Homo sapiens: one gene and its partners. The protein of the gene in region 1 purifies or fractionates together with the protein of each later gene. This does not show direct contact. Each region holds a gene or a part of one and is shown in the gene's direction. Other genes may lie near its edges. The genes, in order: PRPS2, MGA and KLC1.

What was found.
Region 2: the proteins of PRPS2 (region 1) and MGA purify together in Homo sapiens (affinity purification with mass spectrometry; one large-scale study listed by BioGRID and IntAct). This does not show direct contact.
Region 3: the proteins of PRPS2 (region 1) and KLC1 purify together in Homo sapiens (affinity purification with mass spectrometry; one large-scale study listed by BioGRID and IntAct). This does not show direct contact.

The regions. Positions count from the first base shown.
Region 1 is NC_000023.11:12,808,326-12,811,977, forward strand, and holds part of PRPS2 (ribose-phosphate pyrophosphokinase 2), read left to right. Parts: intron 1-908; coding exon 909-1,007; intron 1,008-1,696; coding exon 1,697-1,821; intron 1,822-3,652. UniProt on the Homo sapiens protein: Catalyzes the synthesis of phosphoribosylpyrophosphate (PRPP) that is essential for nucleotide synthesis.
Region 2 is NC_000015.10:41,761,286-41,764,937, forward strand, and holds part of MGA (MAX gene-associated protein), read left to right. Parts: intron 1-453; coding exon 454-565; intron 566-843; coding exon 844-1,077; intron 1,078-3,600; coding exon 3,601-3,652. UniProt on the Homo sapiens protein: Functions as a dual-specificity transcription factor, regulating the expression of both MAX-network and T-box family target genes. Functions as a repressor or an activator.
Region 3 is NC_000014.9:103,667,087-103,670,738, forward strand, and holds part of KLC1 (kinesin light chain 1), read left to right. Parts: intron 1-2,424; coding exon 2,425-2,512; intron 2,513-3,095; coding exon 3,096-3,197; intron 3,198-3,652. UniProt on the Homo sapiens protein: Kinesin is a microtubule-associated force-producing protein that may play a role in organelle transport. The light chain may function in coupling of cargo to the heavy chain or in the modulation of its ATPase activity.

The DNA.
Region 1 (3,652 bases):
ATTTGTTACTATTTTGAATGAAATCTTTTTTTAAGCTTTTATTTTCTTTTTTGTGGCTGATATATAGAAATACTGTTGTTTACAACAAAATGCTGAACGCCACCTAGGTCTAATCATGTGTCTATATAATTTCTTGGATTTCTTTGATGTGGGCAGTTGTATTGTCCATAATTTATGATGTGGAAACCAAAGCTATAGAAAAGTTAGGTAATTTTACAAAGAACATAATATCAGTAAATGACACTAAGTATGAAATTAAATAGTAACTATTATCAATCCCCTTACAGTATTCATTCTTTGACCTTGTTTTTTTCCATTTGTAATAGTGTTAGCGTCCAACTGTCAGCTCATGTCCAAATGTCGGCTCATGAATTCCTCTTTAATAGCTGGACTTCTTTTAGCCTCTGGCTGTGTGAGGGTCTCTTGACCTCAGTGATCTCACATGTGCCACTCTGTCCTTCTAGAACACTATTCTCCTCGCCTTTGCTAAACTTGCCTTAAAAGTGATTTCCTCAGAGGGACCGCTAATAATGATCTTGTTTAAACTTTATGCCCTTCCTACTACTATCATCTCTCTCTCTCGGTACCTTTTATTTCTACACACTTACCATGATTTCAGTTACACAGATTGTGACATTACATGTACATATGTTTAACTGTTTGCTTCTTTCATATTTGTTCTCTATACCCAGCGTCAAGCACTTAGTTTTGCAGTAGTATATGTAAATAGTAAATATTTGCTGAATAAGATGGAATGAATATATCTTTTGCTGTCACAACATGTATAATTTTCTTTTTGATGCTTCGTTGATTGCATCTATGATTTATCCTTCTCATGTACGTCTTAGTGGGAGGAATCTAACAGTATCCATCTTTTCCTGTTATAAAATTAATGTTCTTACTTGTAGAGTCGTGCCCCAATTTCTGCAAAACTTGTGGCCAATATGCTGTCGGTGGCTGGGGCGGATCACATCATCACCATGGACCTGCATGCTTCTCAGATACAGGTATCCGTGTTTTCCTTCTGCAAATGGTTAAATCAAGTCTGTTAAATTAAATAATCTTAGGTAACATTACTTGTGTTTGAGTTTATATATGGCTACTCTCTTGGATTTTTGTCTTTACTAAACTTGAAAATATAATTTGATATTAGTACTTCCAGTCTCTATCACCACCTTGCCCCCCAGTCAATTTTGGAGGAGTGGGGATGGCTTTTTGGTAGTAAGCTCTATATAGTTCCATCTCAGCTTATGGAAAATAATTAGAACGGCAGTCATAATGTACACTTTTTAACTTCTTCATAACTTATTTTCTTTGTCTCTAAAACAGGCCAAATTATACTGTGCCACTTTGTGTTATATAATGAACGTGAAGTATTTGATTTATAATAACTACTTAAGAGACAACAAACCTTTTCCCTCACCGTCCTGCATAGCCATTCTATTCCTCAGAATATAGGCCATCATAAGACAATGGAATATGTCCCAAGAGACAGATTGGACTGAAATATGCCCCTATAACATATCTGTCTTTTGATTTAATTCTGTTTAAAATTAACAAAAGGGAGTCTGTTATAAAAGCTTCTTTTGAACAAAAAATGCAAATGTTATTTAATGAAAGCGATTATCGTTTAAAAAAACAAAAGAAAACAAAACAAAACAAAACCCTGCAACATGACACTCACTTCTCCCTTTAGGGATTCTTTGATATTCCTGTGGATAATTTGTATGCGGAGCCCGCAGTCCTGCAGTGGATTCGGGAAAACATTGCCGAGTGGAAGAACTGTATCATTGTTTCACCTGACGCAGGGGGAGCCAAAAGGTATCATGCAGGCTACACCTTGCAGATTTCTCCATCTGCTGATTGGTTTTTCCTTTTCCGATGTATTAGATAAGGAAGCATGCTGTAAATTACTTAAAGCTTTATTTTGCTAATGAGCAAGTAAGTAGACCGCAGGCTTCACTTCCAGAGCAGAAACCCATCATCTTTGTTAATATTTCGTCATTCAGGAAAGAAGAAAATACAGAGACACACATACACAATAGGTATATATTGGTTTATTTGTTTTCAGCAAAGGGTAGATGTGTTTGAGGTTTTTTTAAGTTATCGTTTTCTGATTATAAAAGTAATGAGCCTAATTGGAAAATAAGTCTTTTAATTAACAGCACTTGGAAATGGTAGCCAAAATAGAACAATTTTTTTTTAAAAGAAATCTCTGTACATAGAATACCAAGAAGGAAATATCTGAGACCAAGAAATAAAGCAGAGGCGGAAAGCCATGTCCAGGTGGCTTGGGGGATGGGCATCAGATCCAGCAAGAGCCTGGTGGCTTGGGTTTTAATACTCACCTGGAAACCCCCATAAAGAAGGGAGTTAAAGCCAGGCACGGTGATGTATGCCTGTAATCCTAGCACCTTGGGAAGCCGAGGCGGGAGAATCACTTGAGCCCAGGTGCTCCAGGCTGCAGAGAGCTATGATCACACCACTGCACTCCAGCCTGGGTAACAGAGTGAGACCCTGACTCTAAAAAAAAAAAAAAGAAGAAGAAGAAGAAGAGAAGAGGGCTGAAGGCCAGATTTCTAGCCAAAAGCCAGGGGGAAAGCCCATCTTTACCTCGGCCTTTGGTTTAGGGGAGGAAATAGTCACCTATGAGAAGTCAAACCACGAGCCTGTGCCACATTCAGATGTGGAGTGGAATGCACACGAAAATGTGCTCCAGGCTGCAGAGCCCCTGCAGAGGGAGAATTTCACAATCCTAGCTGCTCGGTGAGTGCTCCCTGCTCAACCTGACCCGATGCCTGATCCAAAGTTAGAAAACCAAGAGAACACAGTCCACGCAGGCCCAGCATGTGCAGACAACAGGGCAGCAGGCAGCCAATACTTGGGGATAAGATAATAATTACTGGACTATCAAATAAGTAAGTTTAAAAGGAAACTGAGGTGAAGGAGAGTTAACAACAACCTGGTCGTAACAGTACGGCAGTGATGAGGCACCCAGTGGTGTGAGAACGTGGTACTAAGTAGCACCTCTGAAGGGCTTCACAGAGATACTCGAGGCGTTAACAAGCAATCAGGGTACAGGGTGTTCAGAATCAAGGATGAGCACAATAAGAGAATGCTGCAAGCTGAGGCTTGGTGACCCAATGACCTTGTAGAGCTTTGCAGATGCTATCTGGGAAGAAAAAAAGCTGGGAAGGGAGTTTTATTGTGTAGGTAGAGACCTCCATAAGGGAGAAGTAGGAGAGACTTCTACCCCCCAGTCCAGTGAGGAAGCAAGGAAGCTCTAAATGTGCACTAATAGAGGAGTGATGAGAGTGACAAGTGATCAGCCTTTGGAATGTCTGACATCAAAAGCCTGTCCCTCATTTGGCACCCTCATCTGCCTGCAGCCCAGCTGAGGACCTAGGATCTAACACAAAAGCTTAGAAGTAGCCCAGAAAGTTGTCTTAACACTCTTGCAGGGAAACACAGGCCCTGATTCTTAGAAGAGCCTTGTTCATTCTGCTCAAAGCTGCCTTCCAACGGCTGCTGGGGTTCCCAGCACAGAAGAGAAGGAACGGACCATGCAGCTGGAGATCGGCCTCTGCCAGCAGCAGGAAGTGGCTGTGGCCAGGGAGGAGACACAAATATATAAAAGACGGGAGCAGAAAGT
Region 2 (3,652 bases), on another chromosome or scaffold:
GTTTTAATTTTGCATGTAGAATATCTAAAGTAATTTCGTTTAAACAGTTTTTAAGTAGAAGGTGGAGGAGTACAGGATAAGCATTCATATCCCTCTAGAGCAGTTATTTCAACCAGATTTTGGTTAGACTAGGAGTTGATCTTAAAGTTGATTATTAAAATCTAAGCAGAGCACAGGTGTTTTGTATCTCCTCGCAGTGGTGGAATACCTACTACCATTCAGTGATGCTCTTTGGAAATAATCATGGTCACATTCCTTAAAAGTGTAAGCCAGAAATCCTCTTACAGTTTAACAAAAAATAATTTCTGAAACATCAACAATTGTTAATGGAATTTAAAAATTCTCTTAAGATGTCAGATTAAGTTTTTTTTCATTAGAGAAATTGTATAGGCCTTAGCTGTGTTTAAAGAAAGAGTGGATCAATTTTCAATAATACCACTATTTGTATTCTAGGCCTTCAGTGAAATTCAGGGACTAACAGATCAGGCAGACAAATTGATAGGACAGAAAAATCTCCTGACTCGAAAACGGAATATTCTGATACGGAAAGTATCGTCTCTTTCAGGTGAGATAAGTAAATAATCTCTGGTAAAGAGCATAATTATAGCTTTATCAAGAAGAAATCCTCAGTAGATCTTTCAGATACTTAATTGAAAGCTTGGCTCCCACAGTTTACAGCACAGTTATCCTTTGACTGGGTGGTGGGTTGTTTCTTGTGAATTGTAATCACCTTACTTTCCATAGTTTTTGGGAATATAGTTAAAGCAACTAGATTTCTGTTGACTCTGTTTCTCATTATGTGGCGTAATGCTGAAAGTGCTAATGTATTCTGTTAACTTACAGGTAAGACAGAAGAAGTGGTCCTGAAGAAGCTAGAGTATATTTATGCAAAACAGCAAGCACTAGAGGCACAAAAAAGAAAAAAGAAGATGGGATCAGATGAGTTTGACATATCTCCCAGAATTAGCAAACAGCAGGAAGGATCTTCTGCATCATCTGTAGATCTTGGACAGATGTTTATAAATAACAGGAGGGGGAAACCTTTGATTCTTTCCAGAAAAAAAGACCAGGCCACAGGTAGGAGGGACATTCTTCGCTTTCCTTAATGTAGATATACATCAGTTGACTTTAGTGGACTGACCACCTTCTCTTGTCCACATTTTTAGTTTTGTGTGGTTTTTTTTTTTTTTTTTTTTTTTTTTTTTTGGAGACAGCTCTGTCGCCCAGGCTGCAGTTGCAGTGATGTGATCTCAGCTCATTGCAACCTCCACCTCCCAGGTTCAAGCGATTATCTGCTTCAGCCTCCTGAGTAGCTGGGACTACAGCGAGCACCACCATGCCCAATTTGTTTTTTTAATTTTTTAGTAGAGATGGGATTTTGCCCTGTTGGCCAGGCTAGTCTCAAACTCTTGACCTCAAGTGATCCACCCGCCTTGGCCTCCCAAAGTGCTGGGATTACAGGTGTGAGCAACCACACCCAGCCCACAGTTTTAGTTTTAATTAAATGAATTAAAGATGGGTTGTATAAAAAGTAGAATATTAACTACATTCGATTTTGGTTTCTGGTTGTAATACACACTCATGCAAATCCTGAGAAGTTACCAGTCCTGGTAGCATATTAGTCTATAGTCATGTATTTTTAATGAGTAGTTTTTTAAACTTATCTTTTCAGACTTATACTTGACTTCGTGATTTCCCTGCAGTTCTACTGATGGGTTTAAGAAGTTGGGTCTAGCTGAGACCAATAAATGGGAAATTTTTTGTAAAATTTAATTTTGTCAAATCAGGCTCTATTTTTCTTTCTTCCTTTTTTTTTTTTTTTTTTTTTTTTTGAGACAGAGTCTTGCTCTGTTGCCCGGGCTGGAGTGCAGTGGCGCGATCTTGGCTCACTGCAAGCTCCACCTCCTGGGTTCATGCCATTCTCCTGCCTCAGCCTCCCCAGTAGCTAGGACTATAGGCGCCTGCCACTACACCCGGCTAATTTTTTTTGTATTTTTAGTAGAGACGGGGTTTCACCGTGTTAGCCAGGATGGTCTCGATCTCCTGACCTCGTGATCCGCCCACCTCGGCCTCCCAAAGTGCTGGGATTACAGGCGTGAGCCACTGCGCCTGGCCATCAGGCTCTATTTTTCATCAGATCACTTACTTATTAATACATTACTATTAAGAAACAGTAGGCCGGATGCGGTGGCTCACGCCTGTAATCCCAGAACTTTGGGAGGCTGAGGCGGGCAGATCACCTGAGGTTGGGAGTTTGAGACTAGCCTGACTAACATGGAGAAACCCTGTCTCTACTAAAAATACAAAATTAGCCAGGTGTGGTGGCTCATGCCTGTAATCTCAGCTATTTAGGAGGCTGAGGCAGGAGAATCACTTTAACCCGGAAGGTGGAAGTTGTGGTGAGCTGAGATCACACCATTGCATTCCAGCCTGGGCAACAAGCACGAAACTCTGTCTGAAACAAAACAAAACAAAACAAAACAAAAACCCCAAAGTAAATTAGTCTTAACTTCTTATTACCATCTTGATTTTGGAAGTAAAGTTATATTGATTTTATGTGTTACTTATATTCTTAGAGAATGGTATATCTGGCTGGGCGCAGTGGCTCATGCCTGTAATCCCACCCCTTAGGGAGGCAGAGGCAGGAGGATTGCTTGCACTCAGGAATTTGAGACCAGCCTTGGGCAACATGGTGAAACCCTGTCTCTACTAAAAATACCAAAATTAGCCGGATGTGGTGGTGCACACCTGTAGTCCCAGCTACTTGGGAGGCTGAGGCAGGAGAATCACTTGAACCCGGGTGGCGGAGGCTGCAGTGAGCTGAAATCACACCACTGTGCTCTAGCCTGTGTGACAGAGTGAGACTCCATCTCAAAAAAAATTAAAAAAAAAAATGGTATATTCTTTTTTACTCTTTAAATGTTTGGATAGCCCAGTGTATGAGCCAAAAAAAATCTGGTGTGGGTATTTTTTTTTTTTTTTTTTTGAGACGGAGTCTCGCTCTGTTGCCCAGGGTAGAGTGCGGTGGCGCAATCTAGGCTCACTGCCAGCTCCGCCTCCCAGGTTCACGCCATTCTTCTGCCTCAGCCTGCCGTGTAGCTGGGACTACAGGCGCCCGCCACCACGCCTGGCTAATTTTTTGTATTTTTAGTAGAGATGGGGTTTCACCGTGTTAGCCAGGATGGTCTTGATCTCCTGACCTCGTGATCCACCTGCCTCGGCTTCCCAAAGTGCTGGGATTACAGGCGTCAGCCACCGCACTTGGCTGTTTTGTTTTGAGAAGGGCCTCACTCTGTAGCTCAGGCTGGAGTGCAGTGTCTCGCTTGCAGCCTTGACCTCCTGGGCTTAAGCAATTCTCCCACCTCAGCCTTCCTAGTAGCTGGGACCACAGGTGCACACCACCACACCCGCCTAATTTAAAAAAATTTTTCTTGTAGAGATGGAGATGGGGTCTCACCATGTTTCCCAGGCTGGTCTTGAACTCCTGGGCTCAAGTGATCTGCCTGCCTCAGCCTCCCAAAGTGCTGGGATTACAGGCATGAGCCACCACACCCAGCTGAATGCCTTTTATCTATAACTAATTTCTGATCTTTCTTACAGAAAATACCTCACCCTTGAACACTCCACACACCTCTGCCAACCTTGTGATGAC
Region 3 (3,652 bases), on another chromosome or scaffold:
TTCTCATAACACTTTAGGTAGCTTATTTTATTTTATTTTTTTTACACGGAGTTTCACTCTTGTTGGCCAGGCTGGAGTGCAATGGCACAATCTCAGCTCACTGCAACCTCTGCCTCCTGGGTTCAAGCGATTCTTCTGCCTCAGGCTCCCGAGTAGCTGGGATTACAGGTGCCTGCCACCACACCCAGCTAATTTTTGTATTTTTAGTAGAGACAGGGTCTTGCTATGTTGGTTGATCTTGAACTCCTGACCTCGGGTGATCTACCCGCCTCAGCCTCCCAGAGTGCTGGGATTACAGGCGTGAGCCACCGTGCCCAGCCTTGGTAGCTTATTTTTAAATTGCATTTGCTACAATTCTCCTGCCTCAGCCTCCCGAGTAGCTGGGACTACAGGTGCATGTCGCCAGGCCTGGCTAATTTTTTGTATTTTAGTAGAGATGGGGTTTCACTGTGTTGCCCAGGCTTGTCTTGAACTCCTGAGCTCAGGCAGTCTGCCCGCCTCAGCCTCCCAAAGTGCTAGGATTGCAGGTGTGAGCCACCGCACCTGGCCACTACTTTTTGGAACTCTATTTTGTACTTGCTGACTTTCACAAAAAGTTTGAGGCAGCTTACAATAGGATGTAATAGGATGAAAGAAGAAACAACAATATATTAATACGTGGCCAGAATTAGTGTGCTTCAGAGGTTGTAGAAGCCTTATTAACCTTTCTCACGTTTTTCAGGGGAAAGCCTTGCCAGGCAGTTACTACTACTCAATTGAGAAAGATGTGTGCTAAGTCTCAAAAGCAAGTACTTGTTCTCAGTCACATCAGTAGTGAGTAGCACGCTTAAACTGAGAGTTTCTGGTTCTGGGGTGTTTCTGTTTTACTCCAATCAAGAAAGATTCTTCGTTCCTCCATACTCAACAAAATGGAGGGAGACTGGGTACCAAGTTCAGACACAACAATATATTTACTTTTGTTTGTTGTTTTTTAAAATATTTTTTCAGTATACATGTAGCATATCATCTTCTTACAGCAAGACTGTGCAATAGATCATATACTTGCTTTGTAGATGGGAAGGCTGGGACTGCGTGAGGTCACGTAATGCACCCAAAGCCATGTAGCCATTAACTGGTAGAGCCCAAGCTCAGACACTAGAATTAATTCTGTCTGAAACCAAATGCAAGCTTGGTCCATTGTTCTAGACTGTTGCACTTATTCTGTGCTGGCCAGCTGGCATAGGCAGGACAACACTGTAGTGTGGGGACATTATCTTCCCAGTGGCCTAGATGGGAAGGTTAAGTTCAGAAGCTAGTTGGGTCTGATTCCAGAGTTCACCTTGCCAGTCCATTTATTGGTGGATTTCCTTCCAGTGTTTTTTCCCCATCCATAAGCTTGTGGTTTTTCTTTTTTCTTTTTTTTTTCTTTTGAGACGGAGTCTTGCTCTGTCACCCAGGCTTTAGTGCAGTGGCGCGATCTATGCTCACTGCAAGCTCCGCCTCCCGGGTTCACATCATTCTCCTGCCTTAGCGTCCCCAGCAGCTGGGACAACAGGCGCATGCTGCCATGCCCGGCTATTTTTTTTTGTATTTTTAGTAGAGACAGGGTTTCACTGTGTTAGCAAGGATGGTCTCGATCTTCTGACCTCGTGATCCGCCCGCCTCAGCCTCCCAAAGTGTTGGGATTACAGGCGTGAGCCACCACACCCATCTTTTTATTTATTTATTTTTTGAGACAGTCTCACTCTGTCGCCTAGGCTGGAGTGCAGTGGCACGATCTCTGCTCACTGCAAGCTCCACCTCCCAGGTTCACGCCATTCTCCTGCCTCAGCCTCCCGAGTAGCTGGGACTAAAGCCGCCTGCTACCACACCCGGCTAATTTTTTTGTATTTTTAGTAGCGATGGGGTTTCACCATGTTAGCCAGGATGGTCTCGATCTCCTGACCTCGTGATCTGCCCGCCTCAGCCTCCCAAAGTGCTGAGATTACAGGCATGAGCCACTGCACCCGGCCCTGTGGTTTTTCTTAAATAGTTTAAGCTTAACTTTTATTTCTGTAGTTGAAAATTACATTTAAAAAAGCTGTAGTGAGGCCGGGCACGATGGCTCATGCCTGTAACCCCAGCACTTTGGGAGGCCTAGGCGGGTGGATCATGAGGTCAGGAGTTTGAGACCACCCTGGCCAACATGGTGAAATCCCGTCTCTACTAAAAATACAAAAATTAGCCGGGCGTGGTGACAGATGCCTGTAATCCCAGCTACTCAGGAGGCTGAGGCAGAGAATTGCTTGAACCCGTGAGGCGGAGGTTGCAGTGAGCCAAGATGGCACCACTGCACTCCAACCTGTGCAACAGAGTCAGACTCTGTCTAAAAAAAAAGAAAAGAAAAGAAAAGAAAAGCTGTAGTGATCTACATCTGAAACACTTAATGTGTGTTTTTCCATTTAGGGATCAGAATAAATACAAAGATGCAGCTAACCTACTGAATGATGCCTTGGCTATTCGTGAGAAAACTTTGGGCAAAGATCATCCTGCGGTTTGTATATCCAGTTCTTTCATTCTTTTAATATTTTATTTTCCCCATATATTTCTTTTATCCAACTCATTTTACCATTAAACTCAACAGGGAAAGTTTAAGTGCTGCCTTTTCCCTAGATGGTGCAGGTAGGAGGTCTTCACTTACTCAGTGCTAGTGACAGGCCAGAGCACACTTAATTTGTTTATGACCCCACCTCAAATGGATCACCAACTGTATTGTTTGATTGTAAATCAAATTGCATGTCCTTCTAGAAATTTTTTTCTGAAAATTATATTGTCTTCATTAAAATCTGGTCAGATTTGCATATGAATCTGTTTTGGTTGGCTTTGTGGCTTCCAGGGAAATTTTTAAAAAGTCAGGAATACGTTGTTGATTTGTTTAATTTTAGTATTCTGCAGTGTTACTTTGTATAATCTATACTCTAGTGAATTGCGCTTTTCATTTTAACTGAAGTCATATTGTTCTATCCGACTAAGAATGCTTTACTGTATAGATTGAATATAAATGAATATGTGGTGTATAAATGTACTCTTATTTGGTTATCTTTTACCATTCTTAGTGGTTCTCTCTGTGTTGACAGGTGGCGGCGACTTTGAATAACCTTGCAGTCCTTTATGGTAAAAGAGGGAAGTACAAAGAAGCAGAGCCGTTGTGTAAAAGAGCTCTGGAAATCCGAGAAAAGGTACAAAAGAAGGGGGCAGTCGTTTTCTTTGAGATTTTTGTTTTGTGTGTGTGTGGTTTTTTTTTTTTTTTTGAGATGGAGTCTCGTTCTGTCACCGGGCTGGAGTGCGGTGGCGTGATCTCGGCTCACTGCAACCCCCACCTCCATGGTTCAGGTGATTCTTCTGCCTCGGCCTTCCAAGTAGCTGGGACTACAGGGACACACCACCACGTCCACCTAATTTTTGTATTTGTAGTAGAGATGGGGTTTCACCATGTTGGCCAGGATGTTCTCAATCTCTTGACCTCCTGATCCGCCCGCCTTGGCCTCCCAAAGTGCTGGGATTACAGGCTGAGCCACTGTGCCCGGCGCTGTTTTTTGTGTTTTTAAAAATTTTTCGGTTTTAGGTTTTGAGAAATAACCACTGTGATGTGTTTTTAACTGACTATTAGCTGAAAACAACTCATTTAATTAGA